5 linked regions of the Homo sapiens genome follow. The protein of the gene in region 3 interacts with the protein of the main gene of each other region in a pairwise test. Each region holds a gene or a part of one and is shown on either strand. Other genes may lie near its edges.

What was found.
Region 1: the proteins of NUPR1 (region 3) and ALDH1A1 interact in a two-hybrid assay, tested with the Homo sapiens proteins (one large-scale study listed by BioGRID and IntAct).
Region 2: the proteins of NUPR1 (region 3) and NPY5R interact in a two-hybrid assay, tested with the Homo sapiens proteins (one large-scale study listed by BioGRID and IntAct).
Region 4: the proteins of NUPR1 (region 3) and STX18 interact in a two-hybrid assay, tested with the Homo sapiens proteins (2 studies listed by BioGRID and IntAct).
Region 5: the proteins of NUPR1 (region 3) and ABCG8 interact in a two-hybrid assay, tested with the Homo sapiens proteins (one large-scale study listed by BioGRID and IntAct).

What each region holds. Positions count from the first base shown.
Region 1 is NC_000009.12:72,922,016-72,925,617, reverse strand, and holds part of ALDH1A1 (aldehyde dehydrogenase 1A1), read left to right. Parts: intron 1-5; coding exon 6-134; intron 135-1,485; coding exon 1,486-1,599; intron 1,600-3,602. UniProt on the Homo sapiens protein: Cytosolic dehydrogenase that catalyzes the irreversible oxidation of a wide range of aldehydes to their corresponding carboxylic acid.
Region 2 is NC_000004.12:163,346,854-163,349,726, reverse strand, and holds part of NPY5R (neuropeptide Y receptor type 5), read right to left. Parts: intron 2,491-2,873; exon of another isoform or gene 2,363-2,490; intron 2,276-2,362; 5' UTR 2,205-2,275; intron 430-2,204; exon of another isoform or gene 402-429; coding exon of another isoform or gene 390-401; intron 1-389. UniProt on the Homo sapiens protein: Receptor for neuropeptide Y and peptide YY. The activity of this receptor is mediated by G proteins that inhibit adenylate cyclase activity. Seems to be associated with food intake. Could be involved in feeding disorders.
Region 3 is NC_000016.10:28,532,161-28,536,073, forward strand, and holds the end of NUPR1 (nuclear protein 1), read right to left. Parts: 3' UTR 548-3,913; downstream 1-547. UniProt on the Homo sapiens protein: Transcription regulator that converts stress signals into a program of gene expression that empowers cells with resistance to the stress induced by a change in their microenvironment.
Region 4 is NC_000004.12:4,434,029-4,437,630, forward strand, and holds part of STX18 (syntaxin-18), read right to left. Parts: intron 831-3,602; coding exon 742-830; intron 1-741. UniProt on the Homo sapiens protein: Syntaxin that may be involved in targeting and fusion of Golgi-derived retrograde transport vesicles with the ER.
Region 5 is NC_000002.12:43,845,435-43,849,036, reverse strand, and holds part of ABCG8 (ATP-binding cassette sub-family G member 8), read right to left. Parts: intron 2,883-3,602; coding exon 2,726-2,882; intron 1-2,725. UniProt on the Homo sapiens protein: ABCG5 and ABCG8 form an obligate heterodimer that mediates Mg(2+)- and ATP-dependent sterol transport across the cell membrane.

The sequences.
Region 1 (3,602 bases), on a different chromosome or scaffold from region 3:
TCTAGTGGAATTTCCCGTTGGTTATGCTCATTTGGAAGATAGGGCCTGCACTGAGCTGTGGAAACACAGTGGTTGTCAAACCAGCAGAGCAAACTCCTCTCACTGCTCTCCACGTGGCATCTTTAATAAAAGAGGTAAGTCTCCCGAAATCAAAATATGCTCAAGAACTCAAGAATCCTAAATTACAATAGGAAGACCTCATTTGTTGCTACTATAAAGTACATTATTTACAGATGGCTCCTGTCCAGTGGGGGGAATACATTTAGCATGACGGCTGGCTGCAATTTCTGGCAGTCACCCCAAATTCATCTCTGCCCAAATGCAGACAGGAAGCCAAACACAAAGGTTTGGTGTCAAACAGTCAACTTGGGATCACATTTTTGCTTCTTTGTCCAACTCTCATGAACATAAATTCATGTTGAAATTAATGTAGCATTCTTTCAAATGTTGAAACATTAAGTTGGTTTGTACCTGCCACTGATGGCCTAGTGTTTTCTGCAAAATTGTGTAAACTAATCTATGTAAGGTTGAAAGGGCCTCTATGCCAATATGCTTGTTTGTAATATTGGGCCACATTATTTCCAAACACTTTTCAATCTACTCATGAGTGGATATGTTTATATTCAGTTTTCTATTATGAGTTCCTCTGCATTTATCTTCCTGTTCAAAAACAGTAAAAGAACATGTAAAACATTTTCATCAGCTATCTAGATTGTGTTAATATACTTGCAAACAATTCATTGTCCTTTTTTCTTCATCTTACCAAATCTTAAAAAATAAATGTTAATCACTAGAAACTTAAAGTTACAAAACTGAACTTATCTTTTAAAGATATTATTTATTGAAATTAAAAACAGGGAAAAGAGATGTCAAAATGAAACATTTCGATGCAAATAACATGAAATTGTAATGTGCCCAACTCAGTTCCCATGCCTTCACCTGAATTCTTTAATGAAGATTGAAATCAACCTGTGATGTTGAATCATGAATGGGATGACAGTATTTACTTAACAATTTACTAAGTAATGCCAATGGGAATTTGCAACTCAGCAGTTATGCCCTCAACAATCAACAACAGCTAGGAACTAAAAAATGTTAGATCCCTTCAGCTTCTTATTTTTGCTGATGGGAATAATAAACATGTTACTTACTTTCTACATAAGTAACTTACCAAACACTTTTTTACATACAATCTTTTTGAGTTAGCATTATGAAATTTGAAAGAGCCATCACTGGAGCAATGATTCATAGAGTATGGACTTACCCTGACAAGAAATTGTCCTTTAATAATGCAACCCTTGAAGTTATTCTCTTATGTGTGCTTAGAAATGACATAATAAGACTAAAGAATAGAGCCAGTTGGGTGAATTATTTTTTTCTAGAGCATCTCATAAGGTTGGCATTAAGAGACAATCTCAATCCCCTACTCTCCTCCTTTTTGAATTAAATTCTTATACTGTAACTTTTAAACTTTTTATCTTTTAGGCAGGGTTTCCTCCTGGAGTAGTGAATATTGTTCCTGGTTATGGGCCTACAGCAGGGGCAGCCATTTCTTCTCACATGGATATAGACAAAGTAGCCTTCACAGGATCAACAGAGGTAATATTATTTACTCAGGGCAAAAGTTAAGAATGTCTGCATTGCCAGCTATGAAGTATGTTTTATGTAACTATTTTTGAGCCAACAATTTTAAAACAAAAACTCTTTTTAATGATTTGTTACTTATTTTAGCCTTCAAACATATGGATAGAATATAAGCAGATGTAGTTTGAATGACATGATGCACCTATTTTAAATCAGAATGAGAGTAAACTATTTTTAGTATGTTCATTACTTTCTCTGACGAGAAATATGGCTGCTGAGACCTTGTCATATTATTAGGAAGATTTATAATAGAAAATTAGGCCATAGTGATTTGTATGAATGAATATGATTTTATCCTATAGGTTATGAAAATTAAATAGTAGAGTCTCACCCTTTGCACCTTATTTGGGGTTGTCTTTCTCCTGGACACTGTGAAAGAGAGCCAGAAACTCAGCTTCCCTCAGTGGTACCTAGACTAACTTTTCTGCCTCTCTGGCTTGAACTTGACCATCCTAAAGGTTAAAGAAAAAGACCCCAACCACAAAGGAGAAGTGGCGGGCAGGAGGGAGAGCAGACTAGAAGGTGAAGTTTGGGAAAATAGATCCCCATTTATTGATGATGTTCTATCCTAAGCAAAAGAAAGTGGTGGAAGCATACTGTACCATGCAAAAAAAATTATTGAGTCATTCTATTAAATTACGTGACTTTGTTAGATGCTCAGTGCAAAAATGTTATTCATTGGTACACAGTATAGACAGTGAAGAGTGAGCTTCACTCCATCTTAGAAAGCTGCTGACAACAAGAGACCAGGCAGGGTGTGATAAGGTACTAAGGCATGTACAAAATGCTGTAAAAAAGGTTCACAAGAAGGAATGATGATGTCCAAATGGGTACTAGAACTAGCTCTGGGTTTTGAGGAATTGTTACTTTTTTAACTTCCTGGAAGTTGAGAAGCAAAAAAGACATTCCAGATAGTGTGGTGAGCATAATTTGATTATTTTATAATCTTAATTATTTACTCCAGAATAAAGGCAAATTTACATAGCAAAAAGAAATGGTGGAAAATCAAACTTTATTTTTCTTGGTCTTTTTAAAATGAAGTAAATAAATATATATATGTCTTCTTTGTTTTTCACAGACGTAGAGTAAAAAAAGTTTGCATTCTGCAACTCCCTAATTGAGATAGGGAAAAGCAAACCCCACAGTCAAGATTTATTGTAGACAGAACAAGTGGGAATGTTCAAGATATGGCAATACATTTAAAAATGGTGACACCACAGGTTGAAATCATACCAGAGGAATAAAGGTGAAAATTCCTCAGCCTAGAATTCTAGACCCTCCCCAATAGGGAATCCATGTGCCTGTTGAGGTCTGTCCAACCCATGGCCAGGGATGGCTTTGAATGTAGCCCGACACATTTTTTTTTCATTCTCATCAGCTATCTTTACTGTTAGTGTATTTTTTGTGTGGCCCAAGACAATTCTTCTTCCCATGTAGCCCAGGGAAGCCAAAAGATTGAACAACCCTGGTCTAGATCCTATGCCTACTCCTTCTCCAGGTCATCTGGACCAGGAGCTACTGTTTGCTGATCTCATCTTCAGCATCAGTTTGTCTTCGCTCATCCATGATCCCCTATAACATTGGGGGAGCACTTTACCTACTTAAAAAAATCCCTGGAGATTAAAAGTCTAGAAAATATCTTGGTTTAAATTCTGACTCTACCCCTCCTAGCAGTGTGTCTTTAAAAAGTTAAGTAGCCTTACTAAATTTGAGTTTCTTCATTTGTAAAATGGAGATGAGATCAAATTTACTGAGTTGTACAGAATACAATTAAATGAGCTAATGAGTAGTAAAACATTTATCACCCTACTGAGCGCTCAGTACATGCCATATTTCCTCTTTCCTCCCATACTTTTTAATTTCGCACACTAGTTTACACAATGTGAGAAAAAAGCTTCCTGTCCCAATATTTCTTTTTCTCCATCTCTGCCACTCTGCCCCATCTCTTCCTGATTATT
Region 2 (2,873 bases), on a different chromosome or scaffold from region 3:
TGTTAAGGTAGTAGATTGCATTTTTAAAATTTCTGTAGTAAATAACGTAAGGAAAGAAAAAGGCAAATGTAGACAAGAACTTCAAGATACATGCTTTGCAATCACTCATTAATATTATTCTCCAAGTCAATATACCTGGTATGTAGTATAGTCACATAATCTTATCATAAAAATTCCATTTATTTCTATCTCAATCTAGGCCAAACTTAAAAGTCACTTGTCCTGGTCAACTCGGCTGGACATGATCTCCTCTTCAGAACTCCTGTTACATTCTGTTTACAGTTGTCTGATGCTACATATCATAATCTGCTTTCATTGCATTATAATGCCTACCCATCTACCTTGTTTATTTACAAGCAATGGAAAAGCAGAAACTATCTCTTACTCACTTTGGAATCCATCCCAATACATGGCAGAGTAACTTCATCACTGCAGGTATTAAATAAATGTTTATGAGAGAATAAAACGTTCAAACAAAACTCTAGTAACAAATATCACCTAGTTCGTACAATGTTCAAATTTATGCTCCTTGAGAATAGGATCACTATCTCATGACCCAGATGCATATAGTAGGCACTCATTAAATATATTTATCAAACTCTACTGTTGACTGTGTGGACGCAATGCTGGATGATGACATCTTTCTGTGACCAATCCTCAATGGTTTGAGATGTGCCAGATTATCTCTGATTAGGACAACCACTGACAGACTAGCAGGCTGTTGGCGTTTTAAAAAAACAAACAATCAAATTTCACCTGTTGATTAATTTAAAAACTGTGTATAGATTTTGGCTTATGAACGAGTCAATGAATTCATTGTTCAAGGAAAACATTATACCTTAAACGTAAATGTAGCAGTGATATTAATATAACTCCCGGTAATAAGTTTTCTTCATTTCAAATTAAATTAATGTCATACATCAATGGCATTACGTATTTACCTCTACATATTAGACTTTTGATGCTACTGCCTGATGAAGCACTAAATTGCCTATAACATACCAATAAGAGGCAAAAGGACTCCCTCCTCTCGTTTAAAAAAAAAAGGACTTTTTTTTTTTTTTACCTTTTTATTTTTCTTAGAAAAAGGGTCTCATTCTGTTGCCCAGGCTGGGGTGCAGTAGTGTGACCACAGCTCATTGTAACCTTGAACGCCTGGACTCAAGCAATCCTCTCATCTCAGCCTCCCAAGCAGCTGGGACTACAGGCACGTGGGACTACAGGCACGTGCCACTACATCTGGCTAATCTTTCTATTTTTTGTGGAGATGGGGCCTGGCTATGTTGCCCAGGCTGGTCTCAAACTCCTGGCCTCAAGTAAACCTCCCACCTTGGCCTCCCAAACTGTTGGGATTATAGGCATGAGAGGCATGAACCACTGTGCCCAGCCACTTTAATGTTCTTTTAACAAGAATTTCCTACAGAAAACACAAACCAACAAAGAAATTAATTCCAATAAATACATTGTCGTAGAGATTGTGATATATATAGTTAAAAAACCACTTTTGTTACCTATCAATATATGTTTATCTACTTATTTCTAGATCTATAATTGAATAATTATACTAAAACTATAAAAATACATGTTTATTTAAATTAATAGTAAACACTGTTATCTTTAATTTATGAGGGACCTGCAGGTCTTCGTTCAATAAATTTCCAAATGGCAAATACTATTGTGTACATACATTCATTACAAATAAGTTTAACTTCAGTTCTATGTGTAGCAAGTTTCAAACAGGATGACAGAGTCATCATTGTGCTATGAGAAAAGTTACAAGTTTTTCACAACTTCTACAAGTGATTCTATGTTGACCAAATTATTTTCTGGAAGCTAACTACATCCTTTTAAAGGATAAGTTAATTCAAAGACTTAGGATTGTATTCATTCATTCTTAGACCCTAGCCAACAATTTACATTGATATTGCCTCAATGACAAAGAACACCTGGTACAAAAGTGACTCGCATGACCTACTGAATCATATTATTCATCATATTCCCAGTCAATGGCCTCTCAGCACCTACTCTGGATAGGTCAGCAAGCTTCTAATCAAAACAGCTTTGACTGGTGCTTTTGCCTAATTTCCTGAGTTCTGATGATCCCCTGGCTCAATTCAGCTTATTCATGATCCTATTTATATTTATAATTGTGTACAGGCTGCTTGTAACTGCAATCCTGCTTAGTTGTTCTTCTCTTGACTTACTTTCTTGAATCAATCCTTTCTTCTAACTTTGTGGCAGGTCAGTTGTTACCGATAGCCTTTCCTTGTAACACCTAAGCAAGAACAAGAGAGAAATTAGATGGCCCCTTCTACAACGGCTTTGTGCCTTTTTGGAACATGTAACTGTGGATGATACTTACTTAGTGTAAAATTGCTGTCCAAAATTTTTTGAAGAAAGAGAAGATGCAGCACAATTTGTGGTAATAGAAACAATGTAGTTTTGAGTCTAAAATTCAGATTTTTCTCCATTCCATGTGGTTAGACCTCTCTATTATATTCGAATGGAGATAAAACTCTTAATTATTTTCATTCTAGAAATGATGTTTAATAAAGCATATTACACATAGTGGATGCTAAGTAAATATTTCTTACCAATCGTTTTAGAAAAGCAGTTTAATTTCCCTTGCTTTAAAATAACAGAAATGAATCATTCTGGCAATGTGGGAAAATTCAGGATAGAGTATGACTATATTTTTGTGTGTACATATATATGTGTGTATATGTATCTTTATATATACATTTATAGAGAACCATTGAAATTATAGATGTTTCAAATGGCCCCAAAATGCAATGAGGAGGAGATACCTAGACAGACAATAAAGATAGTTTAGCACTTTAAATTTGGATAACTTCATTGATAAAGGCTATCAC
Region 3 (3,913 bases):
GAACAGACAGACAACCCCATGGTGAGTTTCTCAGTTCTCTGCAAGGAGTCGGGAGTCCTTTGAGTTACAGAAGCCTGACAGGGCCAATTCTGTAAGCCCCTGGGGTAGGACAGAGGTCAGTGATTTCTCTAGTTCTCAGGGGGATCCCCCCAAAATGGGGAAACAGACATGCAACCAGAAGAAAAAGAAAGGGTTTAGGAAAGGGGATGGAGACAGAAGAGGAAGAGTCTGGGTAGGATCCTTTCGGATCCAAAAATTCTGCAATTCCAAGAATTGCCTTAATTCCCAGAACAGCCACTTAAAGGCCTCTCAGGCAGAGGCTGTGCCAGGCGAGGGCGAGGCCAGGAAAGGCCAATCAGAGGCCAGGAGGGAGGGGCAGTGTGTGAGGACTCCTGGCTGGTGTCAAAGGACCCAGGACAGGGAGTGGCCATTCCAGCTAGGGACACAGTGCTTCCCAGCCTTCATTTTCTCTTTTGACAGAAGAGAGGCCAGTCTCACCATTTGACAGGTGAGGAAACCCAGGCCCAGAGGAGTAATTGACCAGAAATTAACGAGAGTTTAGGATTCTTCATTGTCAATACATGGTTCTTCCCAGGCATGTAGCAAAGGGGGAAAAATCCAGGCTTTAAAATTCAGATAGACCTGAGTTCATAATTCCAAGTCCTACAGGATGTGGCTGTGTGACTTTAGGCAAATTACTTAATGTCTCCGAACCTCAGTTTTCCGGTCTGAAAAAAAGGGGATCATTAATAGTATGTCCTATTGGGTTATCGTAAGGATTAAATGGAGCAAAGCCTATAAAACACTTCTCACAGAATAGGAGCTCCAAACACAGCAGAGATGTTTCCAGGATTTTCTGAAGCCAACACACCAGGTCTGTGCTGGGCTGAGGGCCGACTGCCTGGTGTTGCTCCTGCCATTTGCTCCCTGGGTTCTAGAGCTGATGGTGGCCCTATTCCTGGTTCCAGTCATATCAGGATTCTATTTGTCCCTCTCAGCAGCACAGGCCTCCAGCAGCATCCTGGTAACTCAGAAGGCATCCAATAAGCATTGATTGAGTTAATATGTAACTTGTATGGAAAGAGGAGTTGGAGGCAAAATCTGAAGGATTTCCAAGGTAGACTGTAAGATTCTGGGCCCAGGCTTCCGTGTGATCCCAGAGGAGGGTCGGCCTGGGGTGGAGGTCAGGAGATGGGTGGAGGATTGCAAGTTAAGGAAAACTTTGGTTTTTGTTTTTTTGAGACAGGTCTCACTCTGACGCCCAGGCTGGAGTGAGATCATGGCTCACTGCAGCCTCCACCTCCCAGACTCAAGAGATCCTCTCACCTCAGCCTCCTGAGTAGGTGGGCCCACAGGCACAAGCCACCACACCTGGCTAATTTTTAATTTTTTGTAGAGAGAGGGTCTTGCTGTGTTGCTAGGCTGGCCTAGAACTCCTGGGCCCAAGCAATCCTCCCACCTCGGCCTCCCAAAGTGCTGGGATTGCAGGTATGAGCTTCTGCACGCAGCCATCAGGGAGGAAGAGAAGGAAACATCTAAGCTGAGCCTCATGAGATGGGGTCGGGGGAGGAATTAAAGTCATCTCAGACAGAAAGGACCAGAAAAACAGAAGCTTATTTAAGGGCAGGTATGAGAGACAGATTTCAGCCCACATGAACAGACTTGCCCTGAGATAGAATTAGGCAACCTTTGCCGGGTGGTGTGGCTCAAGCCTGTAATCCCAACACTTTGGGAGGCCAAGGCAGGCAGATCACCTGAGGTCGGGAGTTTGAGACCAGCCTGGGCAACATGGTGAAACCCCGTCTCTACTAAAAATACAAAAATTAGCCAGGTGTGGTGGCCCACACCTGTAGTCCCAGCTACTAGGGAGGCTGAGGCATGAAAATCGCTTGAACCCAGGAAGCGGAGGTTGCAGTGGGTCGAGATCACACCACTGCACTCCAGCCTGGGCGACAGAGAGAGACTCCATCTCCCAAAACAAAACAAAAAAATTCAGCAACCTTTAAATGTAGCAAGTTCCCCCTCCATAGTGGTATTCAAACAAGCAGAGGCAATCCCACTGTTGCGTGGGGAGAGTTGGGCCAGAGGTCCTTAAATGTCCTTCCGGGTCATGGATTCATTCTGTGGCTGTGATTAGGCTGGACTCAAGGGAAGGGGATGGATACAGGTCCCCAAGGGTTCAAGCTGGTCGTAGTCTGACGTGCATCTGTTCCTGCTCTATCAGGTACTTCGGTCTTCTGTGGATGTCCTTGGGTCCCCATGAACCACTGACTCCAAGTTCTGCAGTGTGGGGCTTATGTGAAAGGGACAGGGGAAAAGGAAACAGGCTCTGCCCGGGGCCCAATCTCAGAGTTTTCTCCCCCGACATCTGTTGAGTCTGCATGTGGGCAATGTTTCTTGCTAGCTTCTTCGTGTATTCACTCTCTCTGGTTCCCTTTCATCATAAAACCCTGCTGTTGCCCAAGTTTTGGCTACCACGTGGCTAAGCAGCTCAATGCTACATTTCCCAACCTCTCTCGTAGTTGGGTGTGGCCATGTAGCCACATTCGGAGCAGATGTGATGTGTTCTACTTTTAGATTATGCCCTAAAATTGAAGAGGTGTGGCCTCCTCTGTCTCTTCCACACTCTTTCCACAGGCTGAGATGCAAACGTGATGGCAGGTATTGGAGTAGCTATTTTGGGCCTCAAAGTGGAAGCCATGTTTTGGGTGTGGCAGAACAGTGAGTAAAAATAGCTGGAATCCTCAACACAATGGAGCTGCCATTTGAACCCAGGAGGACTTGGGGCTAAGTAAGAGAGGAGTAACTTTGTATCCTGTTTTGATTCTTCATAATAGCAACCCAAACCTGTATCTCAATCAACAAATAATCTCAGCTCCAACCACACTTCCTGTTTGCCCCATATTTTTCTTCAACTCTGGTCCTGAGACATAGCACTGAATAAGAATCTCCCTCCCCCATCTCACTTCCCAGAACCCTGTCCCACAGCCCCCTTGGCCTGGGGACCCACCTCATATCTGAAGACAATAAGATCCCTGAATATGAGCCCTGAGTGAGCTAGGGCAAATCCCTTAATATTTCCTTCCCTCCTTTCCTCCTTCCCTCCTTCCCTCCCTCCTTTCCTTCCTCTTTCTTTCCCTCCTTCTCTCTTTCTTTCTCTCTCTTTTTCTTTTTTTGAGATGGAGTTTTGCTCTTGTTGCCCAGGCTGGAGTGCAATGGCGTGATCTTGGCTCACCACAACTTCTGCCTCGAACTCGAACTACTGACCTCAGGTGATCCGCCTGCCTTGGCCTCCCAAAGTGCTGGGATTACAGGTGTGAGCCACTGTGCCGGGGCTCGCTCTTTTCTTTCTTTCTTTCTTTCTTTCTTTCTTTCTTTCTTTCCTTCTTTCTTTCTTTCTTTCCTTCCTTCCTTTCTTTCTTTCTTTCTTTCTTTCTTTCTTTCTTTCTTTCTTTCTTTCTTCTCTTTCTCTCTCTTTCTTCTTTTTCTCTCCTTTCTCTCTTTCTTTTCTTTCTTCCTTCCTTTCTTTTCCTTCCTTCCTTCTTTTTCTCTTTCTTTCTTTCTTTCTTTTTCAATACATGGTTTCACTCTATTGCTCAGGCTGCAGTGCAGTGGCACCATCATGGCTTACTGTAGCCTCCAACTGGGTTCAAGGGATCCTCCAACTTCAGCCTCTGAGCAACTAGGACTACAGGCATGAGCCACCATGCTTTGCTAATTTTTAAATTTTTGTAGAGACAGGGCCTTGGTATGTTGCCTAGGCTGGTCTCGAACTCCTGGCCTCAAGCGATCCTCCCTCCTTGGCCTCCCAAAGGCTGGAAGGCTGAGGTGGGCAGATCATTTGAGGCCAGGAGTTTGAGACCAGCCTGGCCAACATGATGAAACCCCATCTCTACTAAAAATACAAAAATTG
Region 4 (3,602 bases), on a different chromosome or scaffold from region 3:
AAAGTTTTGTCTACTGCAAACTGCTGCACACTTAAAATGCTATCACTTGCCAGGCACAGTCACTGGAGGCGTGCCGTGTGGTAGTCACATTCCCCACGTCTTAGAGGACAGTGTCACATCCTAGCAGCTCTAGGTGACATCTATTCCCACACACAGATAGCATATTCCATCTGGCTTCTGTCACACCAGTGTCCAGATGAGCTGCACACAGACATTGCTGGACGTGAGCTGGCAGGGGCTTGGCAGACCTATCAGTTCCTTTTGAAACCCACCCATAGATGGTAAGCTATAGCAGCTGGAAACCAGAAGGCAGGTAACTAAAAGGAGGTGCTATCAGTAGTTAAGGTGTTACTCTTTTCACTTTTCAGTCATTATCTTACTTTTTTCACATTACCATAGCACTAGCAATTCAAACAATTAAAAAGCATCATAGTGGCATTTATAAAAGACCCATTTAGTCTAGAAGACTATTTTACTGTTGTTGAAAAGACATCTATTATTAGTAAAATTCTTCCAAGGCAAAATGTCTTCTTTAATTATGCTACTGCAAATTTAAAGCATATGAAAAGCACCGTAAGAATTAGGAAATCAAATGGGAAAGTGTATATAAAATACACATTTATAATTTTTAAAACTCAGTATAAAAATAAGGGCAAGGGCATTGAGGATGAGTTTCTCCTTAGTGAAACAGTCTTATGAAAACCAGTTAAAAATAAATAATTAGGCAGAGAATAGCATTACCATTTGTATTTCTTCTGGGGATAACTCATCTTCGCCTTTGCCATCTCCCCACGTTCCCAATTCAGGTTGTGTTTCAGCCAAAATTTTTTCTGTTAAAAAAAAAATTGAAAATAGAAGACCAAATATGTGTTTTAGAATAGGCTGGCTTAGGATGTAGTCATAACACAAACAAGAGATTAAACAGAATCTTACAGCTTTGTCTATATATTTCATGATCTTTGGGCTAATATTCAGGCACTGCAGACATGATTCTTTCACAACATTTAGGCTTTAAATTGTCTTTGTGCAGGCACGTGCATGTGTGTGTGTGATGGGGAGGGGGACCTATGCACGGTTTCAGTATCGCACTGATGTCAGCAATGGCTGCAAACTAAATGGACATTATTCAGAATGTCTTCAGAATTCTTCAGAATGAGTCTTAAAGTATGTTTTACTTCAAGACACATACACCCCTGTCTACTTTTAAAGACTGTAAGACATATTTTTATTGTAAAAAATACATATGCATATATACATACATATATATATATATACAGGAAGTGATATACTGTTCTCCAATCCTATTCCTCTCCCAGATGTTACTGCTTTGATGTAGCTTCATAGATTTTATCTAAAGATATTCACATACAAAGATATATGAGTCCCTGTCTACCCATGAAATTCAAGTAATACACAGTTTTGTGTGTATGGCGGCTTGCTTTTCACACAGATATCAATAGTAACATGCTGTTCTAAAACTTGCTTTGTATGATTTATTGATACATCTTGGAGATGGTCCAAGTAGATCTACCTTGTTCTTTTAAATTGCTGCATGATATTCCATCGTGAGGATACACTGGTCTTTAGCCATAACTACGCTGACAGACCTCAGTGGTTTCAGACTGTTCACTGGTGTCATGGTACTGTGTCCCGGTCTGTGCTATGTGCACATGCTGGAGTGACTCTCTAGGACAGATACCTGGGCATGCAACTGCTGAAAGGGAGCGTAGGAACATTTTAATCTGGAGAACTTTTTCATTATGATCAAGGAAAGGTGATGCATCCTCCATTGAAGCATGTCAATACCACAGGCCCCTAGAAAGGACTGCTGCCGCCCAGGATGACGGTAAGAGGTCTGTGCAGTTCATCACCGGGGTAGGGTTGGGAGCGGAGGGGAGAGGGATGGCAGGGATGGATCCTCGGGGGAGACTGTAATGAAGTCACTTTGTGTCTGTGTCTCAGGGCTTATCAGTGAGCTTCCAAGTACTCAAAGGCAAATACTGCTTCTTTTTCCTTTTTTCCTCAATCTCAGTAAATTTCCTGTAGTCAGTCTCAGCCCCATGAGATGGCAACAAGTCCAGATCTTTAAATAGGGGAAGAGAACGTAATGATAGCAACAATGTAGAGAAAGCTCACTAGGCAGGCCATGCCTGAAAGTTATGGTTATTTATTAGAAATATATCTTTACAAAAAAAACTGCATGTCATCCACAACTTAGTGCATGCAGGCTTTTAGAAAAATGGCTGTTTTTACCAGAAGTGTCATTATAGAAAAACATGTGTTTGTAAAAGGTTGGCTAAAAGTATCTTTAGAAATGATCTGATATTTTCCTGAGATGACATTCTTTGGGTAGGAACATTTGTACTTTCATCTACCCCCCACCCCCACCTTATGAGCTGTCTCCTACTTGTCCTCATTATGGTATCCATTTCAAGCTTTTACTGTTGTTGATTTCTTTTTTAAGGAAAAAAACATCAAAATTAGAAACAGAAACCTTGTTCATATCTGAACCAAGCATAAATTAACTCTGAGCTAGAATGGGAAAGTTTTCTTAGCAGAACTCACACTCTACAACATGCTCATTTGTGGCCATCAGAAGCCTTCTTGATAGGCTGCCCTAAGGATCAGCCTGAAGCACAGCACCCACCATGCCAGTCCTCTGCCCAGGCCACCCGTGCACCCTGGTGCCACAGAGGCAAGTCCAGACTCCCTACTCTGGCATTCAAGGCCCTACCCACCCTTCCAAGCTTACTCCCACCTCTCCTCCCACTGATGGGCTTCACTGATCCCCACGGGTCTTCTTTACTGACTATATCCCACCCAATCTCCAGGCTTTCTGGCCTCTGAGCATTTGCTCATGCTGCTGCCTCTGTCTAGAACTTTCTAAGCTTTCATTTTTTATTTTTTCAGGTCCAGACTCACTTTTTTTTTTTTTTTTTTTTTTTTTTGAGACGGAATTTCGCTCTTGTTGCCCAGGCTGGAGTGCAATGGCACGATCTTGGCTCACTGCAACTTCCGCCTCCCAGGTTCAAGTGATTCTCCTGCCTCAGCCTCCCCAGTAGCTGGGATTACAGGCGTGTGCCACCACACCTGGCTAATTTTGTATTTTTAGTAGAGATGGGGTTTTTCCATGTTAGGCTGGTCTTGATGTCCTGACCTCAGGTGATCCAACCCGCCTTGGCCTCCCAAAGTGCTGGGATTACAGGTGTGAACCACTGCGCCTGGCCCAGACTCACTTCTTAGTGCCACCTCCTCTTGAAGTCTCCCTGGCCCTCTGCTCTCTCTTGAGGTACTACTTACTTTCTCCCAGGGGCTAGAGCCTTATCTTTCCCATCAACTGTGAGCTCCCTGAGGGCAGGAATCACATCCCTGAAACTTATTGAGCTCCAATGTGACACCCAAAGGAAATACTCATTGGAGCTTTCCAGATTTTAGTTTTCAGATTAGAGATGCTCAACTGGTAAGGACAATGCAAATATGCAAAAATTTGAAAAAACCCTAAATCCAAAACACTTCTGGTCCCAAGCATTTCAGATAAGAGATACTCAACCTGTAATTTCTGTGACATGTCCAGGACCATGCCTAGCATCTGGAAGACAAGA
Region 5 (3,602 bases), on a different chromosome or scaffold from region 3:
TTTTTTTTTTTTTTTAGACAGTGTTTTGCTCTTGCTGCCCAGGCTGGAGTGCAATGGTGCAATCTCAGCTCACTGCAACCTCCACCTCCAGGGTTCAAGCGATTCTCCCACATCAGCCTCCCAAGTAGCTGGGATTACAGGCACGTGCCACCACGCCCAGCTAATTTTTTGTATTTTTTTTTTAGTAGAGACAGGGTTTCACCATGTTGGCCAGGCTGGTCTCGAACTCCTGACCTCAGGTGATCCACTTGCCTCAGCCTCCCAAAGTGCTGGGATTACAGGCATGAGCCACCGTGCCCAGCCTGGCTGTTTTCTTTGTATTTTAAAAATTATGGCCAGCGTTCTTTTGTGTGTATGTTGGGCAGGGGGAGAGGGGGATGGCAGTAAAAGTCACAGGAAGTGTAGTTGATGAACCTTTCTAATAAATCATTTTAATAATTTCAGCTGCTCAGTTAAACTAAATTTGGCCTGAGGCTGCCTGCATACTTTGAGTTCCCACAGAGCAAACTGCAAGCAAACTTAGTATGTAAACAAACTGCAACTTATCTTAGCAGTATATTCTCTTAAGACAGAGACTGGCTGAGACAAGTTGCTGAGTCTCAGCCAATCATGGCAGCCAAGCATCAGCCAATCACAGGCTACCGACTGATGAGCTCCTGTCCATACCCAACACCTGATCACATCACCCTCAAATAAATAAGGTGAACACCCAACTGTAACCAATCAGCTATTTCTGTAGGGCACTTCCTTTTTCTGTCTATAAATACTGCCTGACCAAATTGCTTGGGGGAGCCTCTGAACTGGTCCTGTTTTTGAGTGCTGCCAGATTCATTAATCACTATTTGCTCAGACAACTCTACTATTTATTTGTCTAAAGTTGTTTGTTGTTGTTTTGTTTTTTGTTTTTGTTTTTTTTACACAGGCAAGTAAACCTGAAGCCAAACAACACTGAATCTATAAACAACCAGGAGATGCTCGGTGCAGTGACTCATGCCTGTAATCCCAGCACTTTGAGAGGCCAAGGCAAGCAGATCACCTGAGGCCAGGAGTTGGAGATCAGCCTGGCCACCATGGCAAAACCATATCTCTACAAAAAATACAAAAAAAAATGAGCCAGGCATAGTGGCACCCACCTGTAATCCCAGCTACTTGGGAGGCTGAGACATGAGACTCGCTTGAACCCAGGAGGAGCGGGTTGCAGTGAGCCGAGATCACACCACTGCAATCCAGCCTAGGCAACAGAGAGAGACTGCCTCAAAAAAACAAAACAACAACAACAAAAAAAACAAAACAGGAGACTATTCAGTGTAATTTATTCATTCCTTTCTAAGAGACGGGATCGTGCTCTGTTGCCCAGGCTGGAGTGCAGTGGCGCGATCTCGACTCACTGCAAGCTCCACCTCCCAGGTTCACGCCATTCTCCTGCCTCAACCTCCCAAGTAGCTGGGACTACAGGCACCCACCACGACACCCAGCTAATTTTTTGTATTTTTAGTAGAGACGGGGTTTCACCGTGATAGCCAGGACGGTCTCGATCTCCTGACCTCGTGATCTGCCCGCCTCGGCCTCCCAAAGTGCTAGGATTACAGGTATGAGCCACTGTGCCTGGCCGGGATCTACTTTTTTCTTATTTAGGTCAGGATTGCAGGGACAGGGACAGAGTGAGAGGGACTTCATGACTGTGATGCTGTTTCAGTTACAAAGTGCATTTATACATAAGATTTCATTTGATCTTTGGTTATACGGTAAACAGAACTTATCTACCAGACGGGTGTAAAAGTTTGGAGCAGAATGTTTAAAAAATTGAGTAATCTCTACCTCTGGAAATGATTAATTAAAAGATATAAAATGCTCTCTCCAGCACTATGTAAGGGTGTCCCAGGGAGAAATGTCTTGATCCGAGAATGATGAAACCAAAGTTCTAGTTCTAGCTCTGCATTAAATATGTGTCCTTACGAGAATCCCTCAATTTCTTTGGATTTGAGTCTCCTCATCTGTCAAATGGAGGGGAGTGTGTGTGTGTGTGTGTGTGTGTGTGTGTGTGTGCACGCGCGCGTGCAGGAGGATACTCTAGACACACTGAGGAGTAGGGAGTTTGAACACCTTCCTCTGAAAATGCTTCCAAACTGGTAGGGAGAAAGAAAGGTGGAACATGATGAGAATGACCTCTGTTCCCCAAGCCCCCTTTCAGCTCAGACATTCTCTCATTTTAAATTTGGCCATGGAAATGACAATTTGAGGCACTCCAAGAACCTGGCTCTTTGCAGATGAGTGAAAGTTGTGCTAAGTAAGACACTGGAGAGGCTGTCTGAGAGGTGAGAGTGTGGCAGGGGCTGTCTGGCCATAATCAGAATGTGATTGTGGAGGAACAACCTGAACCAATGCCCCTCATGGCTGGAGGAGTCTGAAAAGAACATTACATGCTGGAGCTGTTTGCTGATCTCTCCGTCCAGGTGTTAGCCAAAGTCAGATGCTCTGGCCACAGCCTCGGGTGGACAAGAGGCGCACTCATGACTCTTAACAACAGCACCTACCCTCAAGCCAGCAAATGGAGGAGCCAGGATTTGAGCCCAGGTCTGTCTGACCCAGAACCTGTGTTCTCAGCCATTCTGCTGTATTATTCTACTAGTCAGCAAAGAGCTCCATAAGAAGCATCCATTTGTCCAAAGGACCATTCTGTATCCCAGGAGAGAAACCATTGCCCAGCGATTTGCCTTTCCGGTACCTGAGCTCCCTATGATGGCCAGCATCTGCCCACTTCTCACTTTGAAGCTTAGGTTCTGGATGCCCAGCTCACAAGAATTCTGGCAGCTGGGAGATGTCCAGGGCATCTTGAACTGAGCCAGCTGCTCAAACCAAGGGACCTGAGAGGCCAGGTCCACCTGTGGGGAGATATCAGAAGGTTCCTTAGAGAGCTGAATGGTTCAGAGGGCTTCAGCAACTTCTGTTCAGCATCTTCGTTCCCCAGGTGGCCCCTCTCCACAGAGGATATGTCCTCACCTACACACAATAGGCCCCAACCCAGGTTCTACCAAACACGGAAGCAGGACCCATGCTGAGAACCTGTAGCTGCTGTTTCTAGGTCTGAAGATAAGAAGAATGAAAAGCATGTACAGGCCAGGCATGGTGGCTCATGCCTGTAATCTCAGCACTTTGGAAGGCTGAGGCAGGTGGATCACCTGAGGTCAGGAGTTTGAGACCAGCCTGGCCAACATGGTAAAACCCCGCCTCTACTAAAAATACAAAAATTAGCCAGGCATGGTGGTGGTTGCCTGTAATCCCAGCTACTTGGGAGGCTGAGGCAGGAGAATCACTTGAATTTGGGAGGCAGAGATTGCAGTCAGCCAAGATTGCACCACTGCATCCCAGCCTGGGTGACAGAATGAGACTCCATCTCAAAAAAAAAAGTAAGGAAAAAAGAAAATCATGTGCAATAGTGGTACAGAAATAAAAATAAAACACGAAGCAAAATGTCTTCACTTGATACTAGTAATTTACTAATAATTTATCAGATGTTTACTATGTGCAAGACATTGTGTTAATCACTTAACATCCATCACCTTATTCAATCCTCACTGCAAATCTATAACATAGATATGCTC